Linked DNA regions of Homo sapiens. The protein of the gene in region 1 interacts with the protein of each later gene in a biochemical or structural test. Each region holds a gene or a part of one and is shown on either strand. Other genes may lie near its edges.

Evidence for each region.
Region 2: the proteins of PAM (region 1) and RASSF9 form a complex in vitro, tested with the Homo sapiens proteins (one study listed by BioGRID).

The regions. Positions count from the first base shown.
Region 1 is NC_000005.10:102,748,868-102,760,353, forward strand, and holds the start of PAM (peptidyl-glycine alpha-amidating monooxygenase isoform e preproprotein), read left to right. Parts: upstream 1-6,437; 5' UTR 6,438-6,481; intron 6,482-11,486. UniProt on the Homo sapiens protein: Bifunctional enzyme that catalyzes amidation of the C-terminus of proteins. Alpha-amidation is present at the C-terminus of many endocrine hormones and neuropeptides and is required for their activity.
Region 2 is NC_000012.12:85,824,903-85,835,672, forward strand, and holds part of RASSF9 (ras association domain-containing protein 9), read right to left. Parts: intron 1-10,770. UniProt on the Homo sapiens protein: May play a role in regulating vesicuar trafficking in cells.

The DNA.
Region 1 (11,486 bases):
GTATGGACAAAGTTTTTATGGTTTATATTATCTTATTTATATAAACTATCATGTATTCTCTTTGTGTTAGGCTATTTTCATTCCACAAGCATACTGAGTGTATTAACTACTTGTGTGAAACTGCCAGCAGCATTTTAACACTCCTTTTTCAGAATCAAATATTTGGTTCTTCATTAGTGCTGAATCTACATAAAATTGATGACCCTGGTTGTCCTTGTAATTATTTTATTTCTAAACCCTGGACTTTATAGAAAGAATTAATTATAGCATGTATCTGTTTTTTAACTGCGAAATTGGATAATGGCTTAATAGCTCAAGGGGATTACTTGTGGGAATTTAAGACCTGTAAGATTCAATTTCCCCCATGTCTATTTTCCTGCAGTGATCTATGGCTTTGATTCCAGTCACAGATCCACCAAAATGAGGGTAGGTCATGGATATGTTGCTGTGTCTTTTTTTGAAAAGTCATGGATTTTCCTTGTGAATCAGCCTTGCTAGCACAGCCAGAAACCTAAGGTAGGTAGAGACAACATAACTTGGCATGGAGAACTTACCTTGTGAAACCAAATTAACTTTTTTAATTAAAAAAAAAGTTTAACTGCATCTAATAGGTAGGTAGTTCATATTTAATAGTATTTTAACAAAGAATAGTTTTACTTGCTAAGTGTTTATACCCTACAGATGGTTGCCCTGACTATACATAAAAACCACCTGGGGAATTAAATAAACACCTATCCTCGGGCCCCACCCCCAGAGAGTTTTGTTTATTGGGTCTGAAGCCAGTCCGAGGCAGGGCTGAGGTGGCAGGATTGTTAAAGCTTCCCAGGTGATTCTAATATGTAGACAAGATTGAGAATCATTATGTCTAGCCAGTAGTACTGAAACGTATTTTTCTCCTCTGAATAACAGCATTGTGTGAAGTTAGAGGGGCCAATTTCTGGGGAATGTGGGATATATGAATCATAATTAGGCCCTCTAAGTGTCAACCACAGTCTGGGCAGGGAACACCTGTGGAGCAAGGAATTAAAAATGAATGATACCCTTTGTATTGTAACGATAATACATTCTACTCTCCGGGAAGCTATTAAAATATTCCCCTTAAGATTTTTTTTTTCAAATCTATTTTAAAGTGTCACAAGAGAAAGTAATATGGGATATTCAAGAAGGCTCTGTATACTTAACCTGGCAGAGCTTTCTGGAAAATATTTTGTTGTTTTATTTATGTGTTCATCATGCAGTGATAGAGGGGAGAATGTGAGTTGGCCTGAGAAAAGAGAGAAAGAGATTTCACATTTGCATTACATCAAGGAGGTTCAACTTGGTCTAACTACCTCTTATTCCACTTTTCAAATCTTGAGATCTGTTTGATGCATAAATTTCATAAATGTTCACCTCATTTAAATGATAATTTATGTCCTTAGAATATCATTTCTAGCTTTGTTCTTCTGCACACCCCTGGAGCTGATCAGAGTGTGTTGATCCCTTTGTTTTCAAAGGAAACTTTATGTTCACACTCTCGCTACAGGGGTTAGCAGAGTAAGACGAGAAAATAGTCCCATAGTGTTTCTGCCAGCTAATGAGGAAAATTTTTCCTCCTATATATATCATGATAGGTAATTGAATTAGTACTCCAGTAGGAAAGGGTTTGCTATTTCATACTTCTATAGTCTTTTCTTAACACCATGAAATTAAAGACATGCCAGCATGGAGCTGCCTATTCCTGATCGATTTCAAATAAGCAATGTAGTATATTATTGCTTTTATGTGCTTTTACAGCACATGCTGTGCAAGATAATTGACTCCATGACAGATGTCTATATTTCAGAGGAAAATTTATTTGTTAAAGAACAAACATGTATTACTTTAACATGGGGCTATTCATTATATTGCCCACAAGGTGCTTTTTGATGACTTCTAAATTGAAATTAATATTTTCTCTTGTCGTTCTGAATATGCATAAGCAAATTTGACTGTTTGATATAACCATTTTGAAGCTTATTCTGCTACTTGAATGTAACCTTCTGTACTCTTAGATCATGTTTGAAGTGCTGGGAAATGAGAAAGTGTGCATTTGTTTTTTTTTTAATTTTCAAAGAAGCCTGTAGGCCTGAACAGTTGCCAAGTTGTTCAGAGTAAGTTCTGTCCATCAGACCCATCTTTACATAAAATGACTATGAGAAAAGTCTTAAAGGGTACAGGAAATATTTTCCATGAATCCTCCTTTACTCTCTCACTTCTGCTTGAAATGTCACTCTTTTTCAAGGCAAACACTAGTAGGAAGTAGCATCTGAAGTCCCTAACACTTTTGTGTGAGGCAAACTGACTTGGAGAACTGGCAGTATTAGTTGGACAAGGCTGCTATGAAATAAAACTGAAAAAAGAGAGACGTTTACAAAGGAATGTCCATCTCCATCTACTTTGCAACACTGACGGAGACCAATTCTCCTGTCTGTAAATAAACCCTCCCATTCTTTTAGCTGTCAGAGTTTCTCCAGGAAGAAACTAGACCCTTTATCCTCATCAGCTGACTGGTCACCTTTTGCAGTAAGATCATACCATTAATATAAAATTAAAATAATCAATACCAAGGGATTACCATATTCAGAAAGGATATAAGTTTAATAAGGTTCTTTCAAGGACTATTTCTCTTTTGATGAGAAGAAAAAGAGAAATTTCTACCCTCTTGAACTTTCAATGGCCTAGCCTTTTGAGCATTAGAGGAAACAAGCGGGGGGCGGAGAAAGAGATTTTTTAAATTAAATTGGATATAGTATTTTTGAAAGTAAAACTGGGACACTAAGGACTAGTTTTGTAATGACAGAGTGCAGAGACAACCTCAGGTGGGGTGGAGCCCTGAGGAGAGTGAAAAGGGAGGCTTCTCCTCACCTAAGTGGAGGTGGTTGGCTCCACTGCCCAAGCTGGCCTGCACACAGAATGGAATGCCTTGAGGCTGTAAGTCTGAGGCTCTGAGGTGAGGTGCACTACTGGGCGTCTGACAGCACAGCTAAAATTGGCTGTGCCAACCAGTGAGAGGTGACAGCATGCCGGCAGCCCTCGCTTGCTCTGGGCACCTCCGTGGCCTTGGCGCCCACTCTGGCCGCGCTTGAGGAGCCCTTCAGCCCGCCGCTGCACTGTGGGAGCCCCTTCCTGCAATGGCGGAGGTCGGAGCCGGCTCCCTCAGCTTGCAGGGAGGTGTGGAGGGAGAGGCGAGGGCGGGAACCAGGGCTGAGCAGGGCGCTTGCAGGCCAGCTAGAGTTCCGGGTGGGCGTGGGCTTGGCGGGCCCACACTCGGAGTGGCCGGCCGGCCTCGCCCGCCAGGGCAGTGAGGGGCTTAGCACCCGGGCCAGCAGCTGCGGAGGGTGCGCCTGGTCCCCCAGCAGTGCTGGCCCACTGGCACTGCACTCGATTTCTCGCTGGGCCTTAGCTACCTCCCTGCGGGGCAGGGCTCGGGACCTGCAGCCCGCCATGCCTGAGCCTCCCCCAAGGCTGTGGGCTCCTGCGCTACCGAACCTCCCCAAGCCTCCTAGACTAGCGCTGCCCCCTGCTCCATCAGCACTCTGTGTCTAGCTCAGGGTTTGTGGATGCACCAATCAGCACTCTGTATCTAGCTAATCTGGTGGGGACCTGGAGAATCTTTATGTCTAGCTAAGGGATTGTGAATACACCAATCAGCACTCTGTGTCTAGCTCAAGGTTTGTAAATGCATCAATCAGCACCCTGTGTCTAGCTCAAGGTTTGTAAATCCACCAATCAGTACTCTGTATCTAGCTGATCTGGTGGGGACTTGGAGAACCTTTATGTCTAGCTAAGAGATTGTGAATACACTAATCAGCACTCTGTATCTAGCTAATCTAGTGGGACTTGGAGAACTTTTGTGTCTAACTCAGGGATTGTAAACGCACCAATCAGCACCCTGTCAAAACGGACCAATCAGCTCTCTGTAAAACAGACCAATCAGCTCTCTGTAAAATGGACCAATCAGCAGGATGTGCGTGGGGCCAGATAAGGGACTAAAAGCAGGCTGCCCCAGTAGCAACTCGCTGGGGTCCCTTTCTACACTGGAGAAGCTTTGCTCTTTTGCTCTTTGCAATAAATCTTGCTGCTGCTCACTTTTTGGGTCCACACTGCCTTTATGAGCTGTAACACTCACCACGAAGGTCTGCAGCTTCACTCCTGAGCCAGTGAGACCACGAACCCACCAGAAGGAAGAAACTCCAAACACATCCAAACATCAGAAGGAACAAACTCCAGACATGCTGCCTTTAAGAACTGTAACACTCACAGAGAGGGTCCGCGGCTTCATTCTTGAAGTCAGTGAGACCAAGAACTCACCAATTCCAGACACACCAGGACCTTGAGGGTGTGAGAGGTTACCGTCAGGTTACATTTAGAAGTGTTGTCCCAACTACTCTCCCACATTTAAGGCAAAAATATAGTCACCACTGAACAAGAAAATCATCTTGGCACAAAAATGTACTGAATTGAAGAAAGAAAACAAAGAGAAACAAAACACCATAGCCTAGAACTCCTGCCCCTCCACATTTTCTTCTCTCTCTCACACCACAAACTTTCTCTCTGTGACACACACACACACACACACACAGAGGAGAGACGTATTTGAGGGAGGGTCTCAAGTGCTTGCTTTCCTTAACAACCCAGACCAGGAGGAAGAGATAAAGTGACTTAGGAGATGCCTAAAGATGAAGAACAGCCCGGGATCCGTAAACAGACTCAGCTCGGTGTCTTCTCGCACCTTCTCAGAATCAAGTTTCCAAAATGAGGGTCATCCGCCTGCCTTGGAATTTGGGTTGGGAAGTGGATGGAGTTCCTGGACACATGCTCTAGGCCCTGACCAGTCTGGCCACTGCTCACTAGGAATTCTGTTGGGAGGGTGTACAACAGATTTTCCAACTGGTCTACAGCGAGCATCGGTAGTTTCCCTATGGAGAAAATGATTTTCTTTCTGGGAATCCCCCTATAGCCTGAAGGCTTTGCCTCATTTCCCATAGCTCCTCTCCGGTGTACCCCTTCGGTTCGCACTTTCCTACCTTCTTCCCAGTCCACTGGCTTCTCCTTCTTTATCTTCCTCAGTGTCCCTTCTCACAACCTCCCTGCTACCACACCAGATTCTGAAGGGGAGGAGTTGTCTGGAAAGACCAGAGCTGGGTGCTGGGGATCTGGAGCAGCTCGGGACCCGCGCTGCAGGGAGCTGGGATGGGAGAGGTGAGGGAGAGGAGGATGGGACTCTGGGAGAAAGAGAGGGGGCTGGGCTGGCGCTGGGGATGGAAGAGGCGAGGTGAACGCACTCAAGCGGTTACCTGCAGACAGGGAGAGACAGTGGCAAATACCTGCCTTCAATTAAACGCATATCAATTTGTGTGTGGGGTCAGTACTGCACATCATCAAGCCTCTTGGGTATAAAACCTTCCTACTGGAACTCTCCAGCCCCGCCCCCACCACCCCACGCGCGGCTCCCTGCTTTCTCTTGCTTTGGGGTGAGGCTGGGGATGTGGGTGGCTCCAGAGTTCCCTGCCCGCAGTTTAGGGGCGAAGTGATCGGTGTGTGCGCGCTGGGCACTCTGCGGGTTAAAAAGGTTTAGCAGAAAGGGATGCAGATGGAGGCGGGAAGCCAGGCTAAGAAAGGGATACCGACCTCCCTCCTCGGGTCGGAGGTGTGAACTGGGAAGCACTGCGCAGACCTGAGCGAGGTGGCCTGAATCCAGGGGCCGGGCAAGGGGGTGGTGTGAATAGAAATAGCACATTTCCCAGGCTTTCAGCCCCGGTACTCTGCCATCCTTCCAGTTCCATGCACTCAGCCAGGTCTCCAGGCTGGAGCAAGGGCTGGGGGTCAATGGGTCCTTCCTTCTCTCGGGAAACGTTCTTCTGGCGCGAAGCTGGGCGGAGGGAGAGTCGGACATTTTCCTCTGCTTCTCTCAGGGCAGCTGGCGTGGCCACCTCGCAAGGCTGCTTCTAGGGACACGAGACTCGGGAGGGTCAGAGACTTTCAGGCCGGGCCTTCACTCCCTTCCCCGGGGCACTTGGGCAAGAGTTCCAGCTCTTGGCTACCTCTGGCCCGCGCGTGAGTTCAGACACCCAGCACACGCGACCCCCGCAGGGAAACCCCGGGAAGCTGCGCGCAATCGCTGGGGACTCGCCAGGGCTCCACTTCCCAAGCTCCGCGCCCCCTGCGCCCAAAGAGGCAGGGCGGAGCAGAGGCCGCCGGCGTGGAGGAGGCGAGCGCGGGGCTGGCCCGGGAGCCGCCCCCGGGGAGGGACTGAGACCTGCCCCAGGAGTCGAGGGCGAGCGGCGGACCCGGCTGGGCCCGGCGCACGCCGAGGAGAGGGAGCCCCCGCCACCGCCGCTGCCTCCGCGTGCTCAGCCTGTCCCCGCCCAGGGAGCCGGAGCCTCCAACTAACTCCGCCCGCCGCTCCGCCGCCCGCAGGCTCCGGCTTCCGTCCCGGACAGAGCCCGTGGTCGCGCAGGTTGGTGTTGTTGCCGCTGCTGCCGCCACTGCGAGGCGGTCAGGGCAAGGGTGAGGGTGGGGGCGCGGAAGGGGGCCTGGGCTCGGGATCCTGCTGCCACCAATTCCTGGTGCCCCAGGAGGTTGTTGCTTTTTCTCCCGGGCTGCCCGGGTCGGGGGTGGGGGGATGGGGCGGGGATCCAGCGATGCGGCCAGGGAGGATTTTGGGGACTGAGCTATTCTCGCATTTCCCAAACCTCTCTCACGACCCTTCATCACCATTATTAAGTCCCTGGCCAGTTTGTGAGGGGTCGTCCTCCCCTCCGGTCCTTCTCACCTCCGCACTTCTCCTTGTGCCCTCTCCCTAGGGGGTACAATTTGTTCATTCGCCTTTTCTGCCCCCAACTTGGAGAACTCTCCGTGACGCCTAGAAAGCCTCCTCGGTTCTCCGCCCGCCCTTCAGTCTAGTTTGGGGAAGTAGAGGCCGCCGCGGAGTAGCAACCTGGGGTGTGGAGTGGGGGCGAGTGCCGGGAAGCAGTGGAAATTCCTTCCCCTCTTTCTTTCCCGTCCTTGCCCAGCTTTGCTCTCTTCCTGCCGTTTTGCCAGCCTCCGAATGTAATACGCGGGCGAAGGGCGATCTCCAAGGCAGAATGGGAAGTATCCACCACTTGGGATACTAGTTAAGTCTAGGTTCAGTCACCTTCCCAGCTCTGTGGCCTTGGGACCCGCCCCATCGGAACCTGTATGTTGTCATCTGCAAAATATGCGTCAGCTCTGCCTGCCGCTGAGGGTAGTTGTGGGGCTCCCTTGGGATGACTTAGGGTATTACGTGATTTTGAGCACGGTCTCTTGTCTCGTGCAGCTGCCTGATGGCAGGTCCTGTGTTCTGATCGTCTGAGTTCAGGTCCTTTGGCTGAGATGTGATTATCTCTCTGGGTGATTTGGTCAGTAGCTTTGCGGGGCTAAAAGGCATGTGTTCCTGGAGCTGGTCATTGGGGTTCAGAGTTGAAATCGTGTCGTCCCCACCAATCCCTGTGTACAAAGCTATGGACCTTACATCCTGTGCCTTTGTGGTCATAGAAATTCAAGTAGAAGGAAGATCTTATTGGACTTTGTTTGCTTCAGATGTTTTACATTCTTTACAATCGCTTTTCTCTTCTAGGTGCAAACTTAAATTTACTGCTAATTCTAATAATCCAGGAAGGATACTTTCATTTTAGTAAAATCAGACATTTAGCTCAAATAACATGTGACATATTGTTTGTAAATTTTCAGTTTATAATCACAGGCACAAAAAAGCATAGTTCATGCCATTCTAGTTACTTTATAAAGCAAGTAAATGGCCTAAAAAATCAGCTTTACAGGAAGTCAGGGCTGCAGTGAACTGTGTTTATACCACTGCACTCCAGCCTCGGTGACAGAGCAAGACCCTGTCTCAAAAATAAATAATCAGCTTTAGAATTGATATTAAATGGTAAGCCCTGTCGTTCCTGCATTCCTGACTTAATAGGCATTTTCATTCCGCGATGCACTCTGCTATATGCTTTAAAGATATAAAGATATAGAGTATGTTCCTTGTCCTGAAGGGCCTTCCAAGGTAACTTAAAGACTATGTAGTTTTATTTCATATTTTTATATGAACAGTCTTCTAATGACTATACATGGCAAGTAGAATGAGGTCAAGAATGCATTATCAAAGGCCCTTTAAGATCATCATTTGGCCGGCTGCGGTGGCTCACGCCTGTAATCCCAGCACTTTGGGAGGCCGAGGCGGGCAAATCACAAGGTCAGAAGTTCCGTACCAGCCTGGCCGACATGGTGAAATCCCATCTCTACTAAAAATACAAAAAATTACTTGGGCATAGTGGCAGGCACCTGTAATCCCAGCTACTTGGGAGACTGAGGCAGGAGAATCGCTTGAACCTGGGAGGTGGAGGTTTCAGTGAGCTGAGATCACTCCACACACTCCAGCCCTGGTGACAGAGTGAGACTCTCTCAAAAAAAGATAAAACTAAATAAATAAATAGATAAAAAATCATTTGGTGAGTTTGCATAATTGGAAGAAATAACAAGTTTGTTAAGACATTGCTTTCTAAAATAAAATGCCATGTGCTCCTACTTCATCAAGGTGCACTTGGAAATAAAATGAATTCTGTGTTTTTAGAATGAAAGCTTAGGAAAACATTCTACACATGTATGATGTGCTAATCAAATGTTAAAAGCTATAGAAATTTTAATTCTAACTTCCTTCAACTGTATGTTGTGGTTCCCACATACAGTTTTTTTCTCAACTCCTTGAGGAAGGAAATTATAATGCCTAGAAAAAATATACAGAGATTTAATGTAAGATTTTTAATAAGCTGGACCTTAAGGCCTGGTGGGTCCTGAAGTGACTCTGGAAATTTGACTTTAAAAGTTACGAGACTTGGTGAGACTGAGTGTGGTGGCTCATGCCTGTAATCCCAACACTTTGAGAGGCTGAGGCGGGAGTATTGCTTGAGTTCAGGAGTTTGAAACCAGCAACATAGTGAGACCTTCTCTCTACAAAAAATATTAAAAGAAAAAAAAAGCCAGGTGTGGTGGTGCACGCCGGTAGTCCCAGCTACTCAAGAGGCTGAGGAGGGAGGATCTCTTGAAACTGGGAGGTTGAGGCTATAGTGAGCTGTGATCATGCCACCACACTCCAACTTGGGCCACAGAGAGAGGCCCTGTCTCAAAAAAAAAAAAAAAAAAGACTTAGAATTTTGTTTTTTTTTTTTTTTTTTTTTTTTTTTTTTTTTTTCTTGGGGCAAAGAATGAGCAAGAATTCCACCTGGAAAAGATTGACCAGGGATCTTGACTTTCTGTCTAGGTTGTATTTTGTGTGACTCAGTGACATCTCTGATTCTTTTCCTCCTCCTAGGAAGAATTTATCTATCTGCTATGTGCAGAATTTATTAGGCTTTACATACTGGGCTTTGAGGCTTTGATTGGACTCTCACATTAAGGCATGGCAGGCTGAGGGGCAGCCTGAGGGACATAATGTTAACTTTACACTTGGCTTTATTGTTCCATACCTTTGTTTTTCTATTTGTGAAATGAGATTAAAGATCCTTCTTACTGCCCTGGAAGCCGTGTCATCTGGTATAATAGCCATAAATGCTTCTTGTGTGTATAAGAACTTTCTTTACCATTTGAATGCGAAAGCTAATTATTAAAACCACATACAAATAGCTCAAAAGATGGGCTGTGAATAAAGCTGCTGTTGGTGTCATGTGCTCTCAGGTATCCTGGCAGAAATTTCAGTCATCATGTATCCCTACAATTTACTGTGTTGTGGAGAATAAGGCCTTCATTTTATCTGGGGTTGAATGTTTACCTCTCCAAAATGGGAATAATGAAATACTAACCTGAAAGGACTGTTGTCAGCATTAAATGAGCTAATCCATGTGTGGTTCTTAGCACATTGCCAGTATACAGCTATTGCTCTATGACTCAAGTAGTTATTTTAGTTTCTCCAGGGTAGGGGGAGGGGGGAAGGAATGGAATTTCAGTGGTCCACATTTTAAAAATGAATACATATATAAAAATATAAATACACTCTTCCCCAATATTTTGAAATAGCCATTCCTCAGCTAACTTTTTTCATTCATTTATGCAACAAGTGTTTATTCAGCCCACACTAAACGTTTGGCTTTTTCCTAGGCACTGACATACAATGGTATACAAGACAGTTATAGTCACTTTCTTATGACTGAAAGGTCTAGAGAGGGATGCAGATCTGTAAACAGAGAATTATAAATTTATAAAGAAAATTTTTAAAAAATTATAATGCCATATGATTCATGCCATGATAAGGGTAGTGAAGAGAACCTCAGAAGATAGGATAGCAGGGTCCTGGGTAGGTGAATGTCACACAGTGCATCATCTCATCCTAATTGGGTTGGTGGTGGTGAAGGAAAACTTCCTAGCAGCATGAATACATGAAGACCTGAAGCATGAGTGGTAGTTAGCAGCTGAAGAGGTGGGAAGATTGAAAGAGACCAAAGGGAGCATGATGCCTTAGAATGGAAGTCAGGCAGAAAATGTTAAACAATACATAGGTAAGAGCAGGAGGGAGAGGCGTGGCAATCTGGAGAATCCAAGCTGTCTAAAGGGAAAAGTAGATACTCATTTCAGCCAAGTATTGTCAGGTTGGGATGCAGGCCAAGTGTTGCCAGATGCCTTGATTTCTAAAGAGGAGCTTAAAATTCATATTTTATAAATATGAAATCTCCCAAATATGAACTAACCCAAATGTTTTAAAAACTATTCTGTGGGCCAAACCAGACAAATCTGTAGTTGGAATTCAACCTAGGGCCACCACTTTATGACCTCTACATGTAAGAAACTGAGAGGAGTTTAATGTGGCTAAAGGCATAAACCTTAAACGGACAAGCAAGGGAAGCACTGGCTTTGTGGAACTTGCTAAGGAGGGGTGGCCTAATTCTAAGGACAGTGGGTGACATTGAAGACTGAAACAAGATGAGATTTGTGTTACAAGATGCAGTCTAGCTACTGTATAGAGAATGAGTGGGAGGAGGCAGTGGTGGAAGAAAGATAACCATTTGGAAGCTTACCGTGGTCATAGGAAGAAATTAAGTGTGGCTAAAAGCAAGGTATTCAAGCAGGTGGGAGATGAGTGGATTTCAGAGATATGTATGATACCCCTATGTTGGGATTCAATTCTCCATTAGTCACTCAGACTTTTGCATGTCTTGTGAGCAAAGGCATTTACTGCTTTCATCCCAGACTCTCTTAAAGACATTTGTATGGTAGATAGTTTTGGAAGATAGAGGTATTCTTTCCCTCTGAAGCAAAGGGCAGGTAGGTTTTACTGTCCAGTTTAAAAGATTCAAGTACCCTAAGCTCAGGGTTCCCCTCTGACAATGCAGATCATCAAGTATCTGCTTCACATCACATGGGGGGAACTGAGTTTCAGGACATTGGCACAACTATGCTGATACTACTGCTACTGATATTTTTGTGAGTAGTATAGTCCTTTGTTT
Region 2 (10,770 bases), on another chromosome or scaffold:
TTACTCTGCTTTAGGTGTTAAGTGTTGCTTTCAGGAAAGTTCTCTGACCTTCTCTGAATAACCCCACTCCCACAAACCGAAATGGAAATGTGTGCTCATTTATTTATTTATTTATTTATGAGAGGAAGTCTCACTCCGTGACCAGGCTGGAGTACAGTGGTGCGATCTCGGCTCACTGCAACCTCTACCTCCCAGGTTCAAGTGAGTCTCCTGCCTCACCCTCCCTGGTAGCTAGGATTACAGGTGCGTGCCACTATGCCTGATTAATTTTTGTATTTTTAGTAGAGACAGGGTTTCACCATGTTGATACTTCTACAAAATCTAATGTACACTTAGTAGCAGCACTTTGTACTTTGGATAATGCATCCTTTTTTGCTAGTTTGCCAGTCAAGTCCTGGGCTAAGTCTCACTTTTGAAGTCTAAATGCCTAATACAGTAGGTATTAAACTTGGGAGTGGGGTAGAGATGAGAAGGGGGAGTTTTAGGGAGATATATAAAGGGAATTTCTCAGTCAATAATCTAGATCAAGTGTCTGAAAACTAAGGACCTCGTGGTTATAACTGCCCCACCACCTGTTTTTGTAAATAAAAGTTTTATTGAAACACAGCCACATCAATTTCATTATGTATTATCTATAGCTGTTTTCATACTACAAGGACAGAGTAGTTGAGATAGAGACATTATGACTGGGAAAATATAAAATATTTATTATGTTTTTTACACAAAAAGTTTGACAACTCTTGTCCTAGATAATTTGGCTGCCCCAGAAATCTGCACTGTATTTATTTAAATAATAAAATGTTTATTGAACTTCAATATCTACACAAGTTTTCTCTGTACCATTCTCTAGGAGATCAAAAGGTAAAAATAATGTGATCTTTACACACACACACACACACACACACACACACACCCTTACAGTCTAGTGGAAATAATGGCTATGTTTGAAAGCAATTTCAACCAAAGGTAATGATTAAAGGATCATTAAAAGGGTGACTGCCTTATGTGGCCTGACTGTGATTAATATAAGATTAGTCAGCCTGACAGCCCTGACTGGGAAACCAGTTTGTGTTTTGCCTTGAAAGCCCCACTCCAGGTGCACTGTACTATTCTGTATTAATCAGCCCCATATGGTTGTCAGGAGGGATGAGAGTGGGTTGGATGAAAGGCTGCTTTCACAGTCCCATGTCAGGTGCAATGTGTCCAAACACCAGGTGTTTACTGGTGGAATATTTAGAAACATTCAAATCACACCTTAATTTTCTTCACTCTTCACCCTGATGTTCTTCCCTCACCAAGCCTATCTCTGCCATATTTTCTGTTCTTTATGATGACACACATGTATCTCCAGTTACTCAGAACCAAAATCTAGTCACGAATGGTTCTTTTTTCCATCCTGATATTGGCCCCATGCACTGAATTTTGAATTCCTATAAATTCCGCCTCCATGGTGACTCTTGAATCATTCTTCTCTTTCTATTTAAGAAAGTCCTTTAACTCCCTCGTACCTGGCCCACTCGTATTCTTTCTCCATTCCTTCCAATATTTTTTTTTTTTTTTTTTGAGGCAGAATCTCGCTCTGTCGCCCAGGCTAGAGTGCAGTGGCACGATTTCGGTTCACTGCAAGCTCCGCCTCCCGGGTTCACGCCATTATCCTGCCTTAGCCTCCCGAGTAGCTGGGATTACAGGCACCTGCCACCGTGCCTGGCTAATTTTTTGTATTTTTAGTAGAGTCGGGGTTTCACTGTGTTAGCCAGGTCTTGATCTCCTGACCTCGTGATCTGCCTGCCTCGGCCTCCCAAAGTGCTGGGATTACAGGCATGAGCCACCGCGCCTGGCCCATCCCTTCCAATATTTTTAAATATATTTCTTCAAGTTTAATATTTATGTGACATAATGATTATATCATTTTCTTGCTCATAGCCCTTCAATGGTTCCCACCACAATATAAAGAAAAATTAAATTAAATTTAAAAAATAAAATAATCTGTTTGGCCATTCACAAACTCGCTGATACTATTATGCCAAATATTTTACATTTCTTCCTCTTTCTCCTTTACCTACAATATTCTTTTTCCCAACTTTTTATATTCTAATCTTCCCTCTCATTTAGATTCTAGTATAGACGCTGTTTTGTAAAACCCACAGAGGTTGCTTCTCCTTGTCACCTAACATACCACTCTATCTCAGTCTTGAGCTTCAGGCCCAATATCTTACTGAATACCTCTACTTTATGTATTTAACTGGCATCTGAAACTTAGCAAGGCTAGAGAAGAATCACTAATTTTCCACACATTCTTCCCAACATCTTCTGTTTGACAAATATCTTCAGAATCATCCCTGTTAAAACCCTCAGAATCATCCCTCATTTTTCATCTTCACTCACTCAGTACAAATTTAAGTTCTCTTTCTAAACTGTATCAATTTTGTCACCTACATTCCTTCTCTACTATCATTACACTAGTCATCATATTTTGCCTATACTACTGTAATGTCACCGCAACTAGAGTCCCTGCTTTCACTCCTCGTCCTAGTACAATTACCTCTCTACATCCTAGGCAAGTTGACCTTTTGAAAAATGTAAATAAGATTCTATAATTCCCCTGGTTAACACCCTTCAATGGATTTCCCTTGCATTTAAAGTACAATCAACATCCCTTATAATCCACAAATATCTAAATAATCATACTCCATCTAGGTCCTCAACTACATTCCCTACTCGTAAGCCCCTTACTAACTGGTTTTCCTTCATGTTTTCCACAGCTCCAAACCATATTCTGTCTCAGTTACTTTATACCTTCTGTTCAACCTGGCTAAAACAGTCTTCTACCACAAGCCTGACATGCCTGATTTCTTTGGTTCATTACAGTCTTAACTAACAAGCCAACTCTTCCCAGACCACTCTCCACTACATGAATCTAGTTTTTCCTGATAACAGTAATTACTATCTCAAATGTCTAATTCACATATTGTTTTTGCATTGTCTGTCCATCTACCACTGCATTATACATTCGATCAGAGGAAAAACCTTGATTATCTTTCTCATTACTTTATCCTTAGCATCTAGAAAAATATATGGCACATACTACAAGGTAAATAAATATTTATTATTCAACATATGGATTATATTATGACACTTTAAAATGCTTGTTTTGTATTTCAATTGTTTACATATGGCTTGTGTGTCTTGTTAATCAGCAAGCTCCTTAAAAACCTAATCCATACCTGATTTATCATTAATACTTCACAATATAACTCGATATAAATATATATGTGTGTATGTGTGTGTGTATTTAAGTAGATCACAAGTCTGACAGAGTGAGATTTGTGATCTACTTAGAACATCATGTATATTTTTTTCTGAGATGGTAAAATAGGTTTTCTAGTATCTAATAGCACAACAGTGTGGTTGTAGGCAGTAATAATTTAATTGTACATATTAAAATAACTAAAAGAGTGTAATCAGATTGTAACACAAGGATAAATATTTGAGGTGGTAGATACCTCATTTACCCTGATGTGATTATTATGCATTGTATGCTTGTATCAAAATATCTCATGTATCACATAAATATATATATACACTTACTATGTACCCACAAAAATGAAAAATAAAATATTATGAGCATATTCTGTAAAACAATACATTCCACAGTCAACCATTTTACTTAATCTTCTAAATTGTGATTACAGCAAGTTCTCCTAATTAAAAGTAGAACCACAAAAATTGCTTAACATTGTTAAAACAGTAACTTAGTCTATGTCTTATGGCTATTAATTATAGTTCTAGGAAGAAATTCCTCAACTTTCACTGCTGGAAGAACAGGCAGTCAAGGAACAAAGTTGACTACTTTGTGGTCTACCTCTGTAATGTGCGTAGTTTCCTGCACTATTAACAAAGATGAAACCTCAAAATTCTACTATGGCCTTTTAAGTGTTTTTACTAATCATGTATAATTCTTCTCCATATGAGAAGGTAGTTATTACATGTCTACCCCATAAAAAGGTCCATGGTTTATCAATAGAATCTCTCTTATCTTCCAGAAAAACACAAGATCTTATGTACAGAGCTGAAATAGATATCCTTTTAGGCTTTACTGTGGAAGACTGTGTTTTCCCAAAACAAACGCTCTTCTACTGAATGCTAAATTACCACACTTAACCATAATTTCAGGGATTCCAGTGGGACTGAAAAGGATCAGAGTAAATAAGGAGCATTAAGAGTAACTAAAGGTATATGAGGTGGCTACAAAATGTCCCAACCATTGGTTGAGAACAATAAACATGCACCAGAGGGCATATCAATAGGCCTCTCACACAAAGCTTCTAGCAGTCATACGCCATAATTAATGAGCCTGAAAATTTGCTGAAGTTGGACCACTATCTGCATCAATGGAAATAAAATTTAAAAGACTCATAAAATGGTAGAGTTACTCAATTTCAAGATCTGATACACGGACCAATTTAATGTGATTATTAGAATAAACAGAAGTCAACTGCCATTGACTTTCAACCGACAATGTTATATAAATACACAAAATTATTTTAAATACTTCCATTGTAATTGTAAAATATTGTTTTCCACCAACTCAACTAAGATTATGGATTGCCAAACTGACCATATTACTGCCCGTTTCTTGGATTCTTTTCTTTTGATTATCATATGTGAGTCAGTCTTAGCCCTGTATGATTCAGCCCCCTCCTACATATTTTTCTAAATCTTATTGCATTCCCTTCTCTTGTTCAAGCCTGTTGCCTGTGGGAGTTTAATAAATGCTAGCTAATTATGATGATGCTCATTTTATTTTCCTTTACCTCCATTTACTCCTCTCTTAAATATTTCTACATAGAGTTAATCAACATTTATTGAGCACCTACTCTACAGAGGAATAGCCTTCATCAACTCCAAGAGATTGTACTCTAATTTTCTTAATTGTATTGCAAAAATTATGATTTTGTCTACCCTGTCAAAGATAGTTTTCCATGGAAGAGTGATTTTAAAAAAGTTCTTGCATGAACTATTTTACTATAATAATGTTTTCTCAATTAGGAGTTTAATCTCTTAGGAATGGGGTTTTGTCTTTGCATGTCTGGTACAGTACTAAACACAGTTTACCCATCCTAAAGAAACAAAATTAAAAGGTAGCCACTCAGAACATTCCTATAACTGTGTTGCTAAACTATCTCAAATGAGTAGGAGATATGCTCCACATTCAACAGTGAGGTCTGTGGAATCCATTCAGTCTCACCCACCCAACTTCACTCATATGCATACCTGGCTGTGTTCTAGGGGGATGAGGGGAGGTAAGAGCATCCATAGAGAAGAACAAATGACCATGATTCTTGATTTGTTTTTCTACCAAAAGTCTGGTAAAGTTGTATGTCATCTATTTATTAGACATGGCCCTTTACCACTTGAAAGCCAGGAGCTGGGCCTAGGAGCAAGGAAGATGAGAGGTCAACCTTGCATTTATGGATTCATTCTTTAAGTTACCCATGTATCCACTTAACATAAATGCACTACTGATCAGCTGTATTTTAAGAGTATATGTTGAATTTCTTTATTCAATCAACAAATATTTTTTGAGCACTTACTCTCTGGCTATCTAGGAAGGAAAAATACAAGCAAGGTCCCTGCTCTGATTGGACCTATACTCAATGATTTTTTTAACAGAATGTTTAAATCACTTCATTTATAAAAGCAGGGTGCATTCTAGTCTGAAGATATAAACCTCTGAGTATAATTTTCCTTGTTTGTCAGCAGATTTAATTTGCATTGCTCATTCTTATACTTGAAATATCTTGTTTATTACTGCCAGTGCTAAACATCTTCCCAAGGCTCTACTCCACTTGCATAAATACTTTGTACTTGTATGATCATTTATATTAGTAATCACTTTCAATTTTATCCAACAAATACACAAACTTTCTCTAGAAGGTGTAGTACTACAACAGACTCTACAAGAATGGAATCACAATATATTAAAAATAGTAAAGAATTAGCACTTAAGAAATCAATGTTGTGTTTTGCCAATGTTGTGTTTGGATGTCAAGAAATTAATTAAGCAACCATACATTAAAGTCATTAGAATGCAGAAGTAAGCTGAACTTTTTCCTCTGACATATGCATGGTGCAGATATCATGAGGTTTCATTTTAGAAAGCTGATATGTAAGAGGCAAAGAGATTCCTTGTCAAGGACTGGTATTCATATACACCTGCAAGAGGTAAACACATACCCTTACTTCAACCTTATTTCATTTTCAGAACTACTATCAAAAGAATAGAGCCACATATTTGTGAATTATTTAGAGTTATCATCAGATCTCCTGGAACTACATGCCAATAACATAACATCAAAACTTCCTGAGTTATACAGCCAACGAACACATTATCTAAATTAAATTGTTAGACAGCTTCAAACTTTTTAAAACTTTTCTCCAAAAAATTAATTTAAGTACTTCTCGCCTTGACATGTGTCAGGCACTGACACTGTAGATAATACATTTTATGTAGTACAAAGCTGGCTTAGATTTTCTTGAAAAACAATTCAGGTTTAACCTAGAGCTCAATTTTACCCTTGGCACAGCTCTCAGGATATTTTTGTCAGGGATAAAGCATTCCAGTCATTGTTCCTAATGAGCTATCCACTGCCAACTAATAACTACTTAAGTTACCAGGTATAATCAGGGGAAATCACTTTCAGGAACTCCTGAGAATTTTGAAGATTTACATACTCAAATATCTGGCACTTCTCCATACAATTTTGGATACATTTTAAATCTTGATTGGAAGGATAAACAAAATAGTGCATAATAATTTCCCACTCTGCAGAATTCACAAATTACCATACTTCTAATAACAGAGAGAAGACATCCTTCTTGTCAGCAACTTTTACCCTAACCACAAAATTTAATTCTTTCTTCCGATGAAGCAATCATTGAATGATTTACTTCTAGTGACAATATAATGTACTTGGCCTTAAGAACTGTTGTCTAAATATGTTCTAATTGATGCAAAAGCAACCTGGAATGCAAATTTTATGTATCAATTATAAAACAATAAAGCTATAATATTTTATGCTAATAAATTCAGGACAAGCAAATTTTTTGGAGTCTTTTAATTTTAGGTTGATATTACAAGCATGTCTGCTACAGCCTGTGGTGGATATTCATATATCAGTACGTTTTGTGAAAGCCGAAGGGAACCCTTGAGATGACTTAAGGGAAAATGAGAGAAAACTAAATAGCACTTCAAAATAATTTTAAGTGCCCTTTAAACTGGATTCAATATTTTTATATTCATTATTTTTTATCTTACAAATCACCTATGCAAACTATTCTAATTTCCTATTTTGAAAAATACATTGGACACTATTTCATTATGGTAATGTTATGCTTCTAGCAAGGTTTGGTGAAAGTACCAACCAATTCTCTGTCTCCAAATCTTATTAATTAAAACACTAAGAAATCATACCTTACAACCAAGTGTTCCAAAAAATGGTTTATAATAACATTCTAGTTATCTGAACTTTTACAAAATTTCTGATTGCTATTTAGACACATTAACATTAAAACAATCCTTACCTTGAAAACCTAATCTAATATAAAGACAATCACATTCACAAATGGAATCTATGTGAATGGTAAATAGGTTCATAATCTAAATCCAATTGTTGAATGTCCACATGAATCTCAAATGGACTGGTGTTTCATTATTTACTACTTTAGCTTTTATGTGAGGAACACTGGTTCCCTAGCGACTTTTAGAAAACACTTTCAGAACTTGAACAGCTTACTGAAAAAATATCTAGACTCTCAAACATTTGTATTCTTCATGTTGAACAAAAAGTCTGATGAAGAAGATATGCATCAAGAATCTTTGGAATTCAGTCATAGAATATTCTGTTTTTCTGGAATCAAAATAAATAATTCATCTCCTAAAAGCAACAGATTCTCTTAAAACCGAAGTCTTCCAATTAAACATTACTACAATTAGAAAAATTCTAAAGATTAACTCTCATTGTAAACAGAAAGAATTTAGGTTGGTTCCATGTCTTTCTATGAAAGTTTGAAATGAAAAGCCTGATTATATTTGGGCATACAAACTTTTTAGGCTTTATATTTAGGCATCTATTATTCTCAAATTTCCTGAATACTATTTCCCAAATTGTTGAACTAAATAATCTTTAAATTTAGAAAAAAAATTATGTAGTAGGATAAGATTAGGTTGGTTTCAAAATCCATATAATTATGTGTCCATCTCTTTAGGTTTTGAATTATATTAAATATCAACTAACCCTTTAAAAAGTATTCACTTTTATATAATACCAGCTGATGTCACATGATGAATAGAGAATAAAATAATTAGTATATTTATGGTTTGAGTAAAAATTATAATTCAGTTTACAAAACTGAATAAACAATTGTATTGTAGGTCTACCACATGGCAGGCACTGTCCTGGACATGAAAACACAATGGTGTCTAGACAGATATGACCCCACCTTCTCCAAGCTTTATGGTTTGTATTTTCTAAAATTTTGTATTGCCTCATACTTTGAAGTTTTAATTGCATCCTGTCTGTCTCTAAAACTCTCAACTATCCATTTATTATAAGCACATTTATAGTACTATCTCATGAGGTTCAATTTTGGGTAATTAAATATCACTCCAAGAGTGACCAAAAATGAAAAGAGAGGCAGAGAATAGCATGCAGAAAAATTCTGTAAGCAGACTTTCTCAAAATTTTATGATCTTTAATCCCCAATGTTCCTTCTAACAGTTCATATATTTTCCTGCTGATAAAGATGCAATTATGCTCAAGTAGTTTTTTGTTATTGTTGTCTGTTATATATCATAAGGCATATAAATATATTTGTTATCCAAATTCTTACTTTACATTGTACAATAAATTTTATATGTCTGTATTTGAAGAATATAGTGACTCTTATCAGATAACTGTCTTATCATAAATCACATTTTCCAAGAAAGGATAAATCACTCATCATTTAAGAAAAGATATTTTGTTTCTGTGCTTTAGAATGTGGTTATTCAAATCATTATGGAAACTGTAAACAAAATGAGTAAACTTAATCTTGCAAATAATTTTCACCTGTGGTCTCACCTCTGCTAAGGTGAAAAAACAAAACAAAAGACCCTGTATATAGCATTAGTAAATACCAAAACAAATATTAATTCTATTTCAATACACTCTGTGATCTTTTCACTGCTTAACTTGAAATACCCATATTTTTGTGTCCTAGACCACTGCTGTGGTTTAAATCTTTCTTAAGGATTGAAAAATACAAATCTGTAAAGGGAAATACTTTCATTAGAGAAGCTTACCCATATCCTTACTATTGCCACCTTTTCCAAAACACTTGCGTTTATAACAAAGCATCATCTTCAGGAGCCATTCCATTTTCTGAGAAACTTGAAATTCAACACTATTAAACTCTCTTTTTTATTTTTATTTTCACCTTTTCATAATTTTGCATAGAAAACTTTTAAAAAATGTTTGCATACTCACCTCCTCGAAAGAAAGCTAGTTTTATAGGTAGAGTAGATAGTAGAGTGGCAGAACTGATGTAATGAAATTGAAGAATGCACTTCCCTGAGGGAAACTCAGGGGCGCATGCAAAGTTTTATTGCCCTGTATTTGGCATACCAATGACAGAAATCTCAAATTGCTAAAGCAAAACAAAAAAACCTCAAACAAACAAACAGAAAGCCCTGACTACAGGGATAGTATGCCAGAAACACAACTTGATTTATGAAACCATAAAGTTTTCCAGAGTATTTTTATACATTTGATGACATTTAAACAAATGCCAAAATAATACTACAAAAATACCACTACAAAAATATCATTTAAAAAACAGAGTATTTTTATTTTTGGCTTGGGGGAGGCTTTTCTGGAATATTCTAGAATATTTTAAAATGCATTGTCACCATCAAAACACAAATTTTAAATACTCAAACCACTTTATTTTAATATAGTTTCATTATCTTTAATTACCATAAATAGCATATTTGTGAAATATTGTCAAATTATTAGAAAATAAAGCTTACTTAGAAACTTTTACAGTATTTATTAAGGCCATTTACTTTCTAAAGGAAATTTTGTCACCTAAATCATGAATACATTTGGAATGAGTTAAAAACAGGATTTTCAAAGTAGACATGTGTGCGCAAAATAAAGTATGGAGATTTACTTTAAAGTTGTATTACTCTATATTGTCATGTAGACACTTTAAAATAATTATATCATTTCCTACCATGTAATTGTATCCTTTTGAATCTGCACTGAGCAAATTATGACAAGTACAAACAGGCATGATTGAGAGAAAAGTGGTGGACAATCCCCTATGCCAAAATAAATATATTTTTAAAAAAATATAGCCCATGTCTAAATTTATTCTCAAGTTTTTGGCATGAAAACGTAACATTTGATGTGTAAATAAAATATTTAATAAGACTAAGACAGACATACTGTCCCTAGAAAAATACGTGTGTGTATGTGTGTTTTGAGTAACTTATTTATACTATGGGCATTTCAAGCTTGAAATATCAAATCAAATCAAAGTAAAACAGTAATAATAAGGATTAGAGAGGATAGCTGCTTGAATCCTTCTTTAGTGCTTAAAACTACCTAAAATTCTCAAAGATTTTTTAAAGAATCAATTCAAACAAAGTTTCTCTCCAGAGTGTTTCCACTTTGGGAACATTCCAGGTTTCAGGAATGCCTCACTCTCAGGGGAGCCAAAGCATTG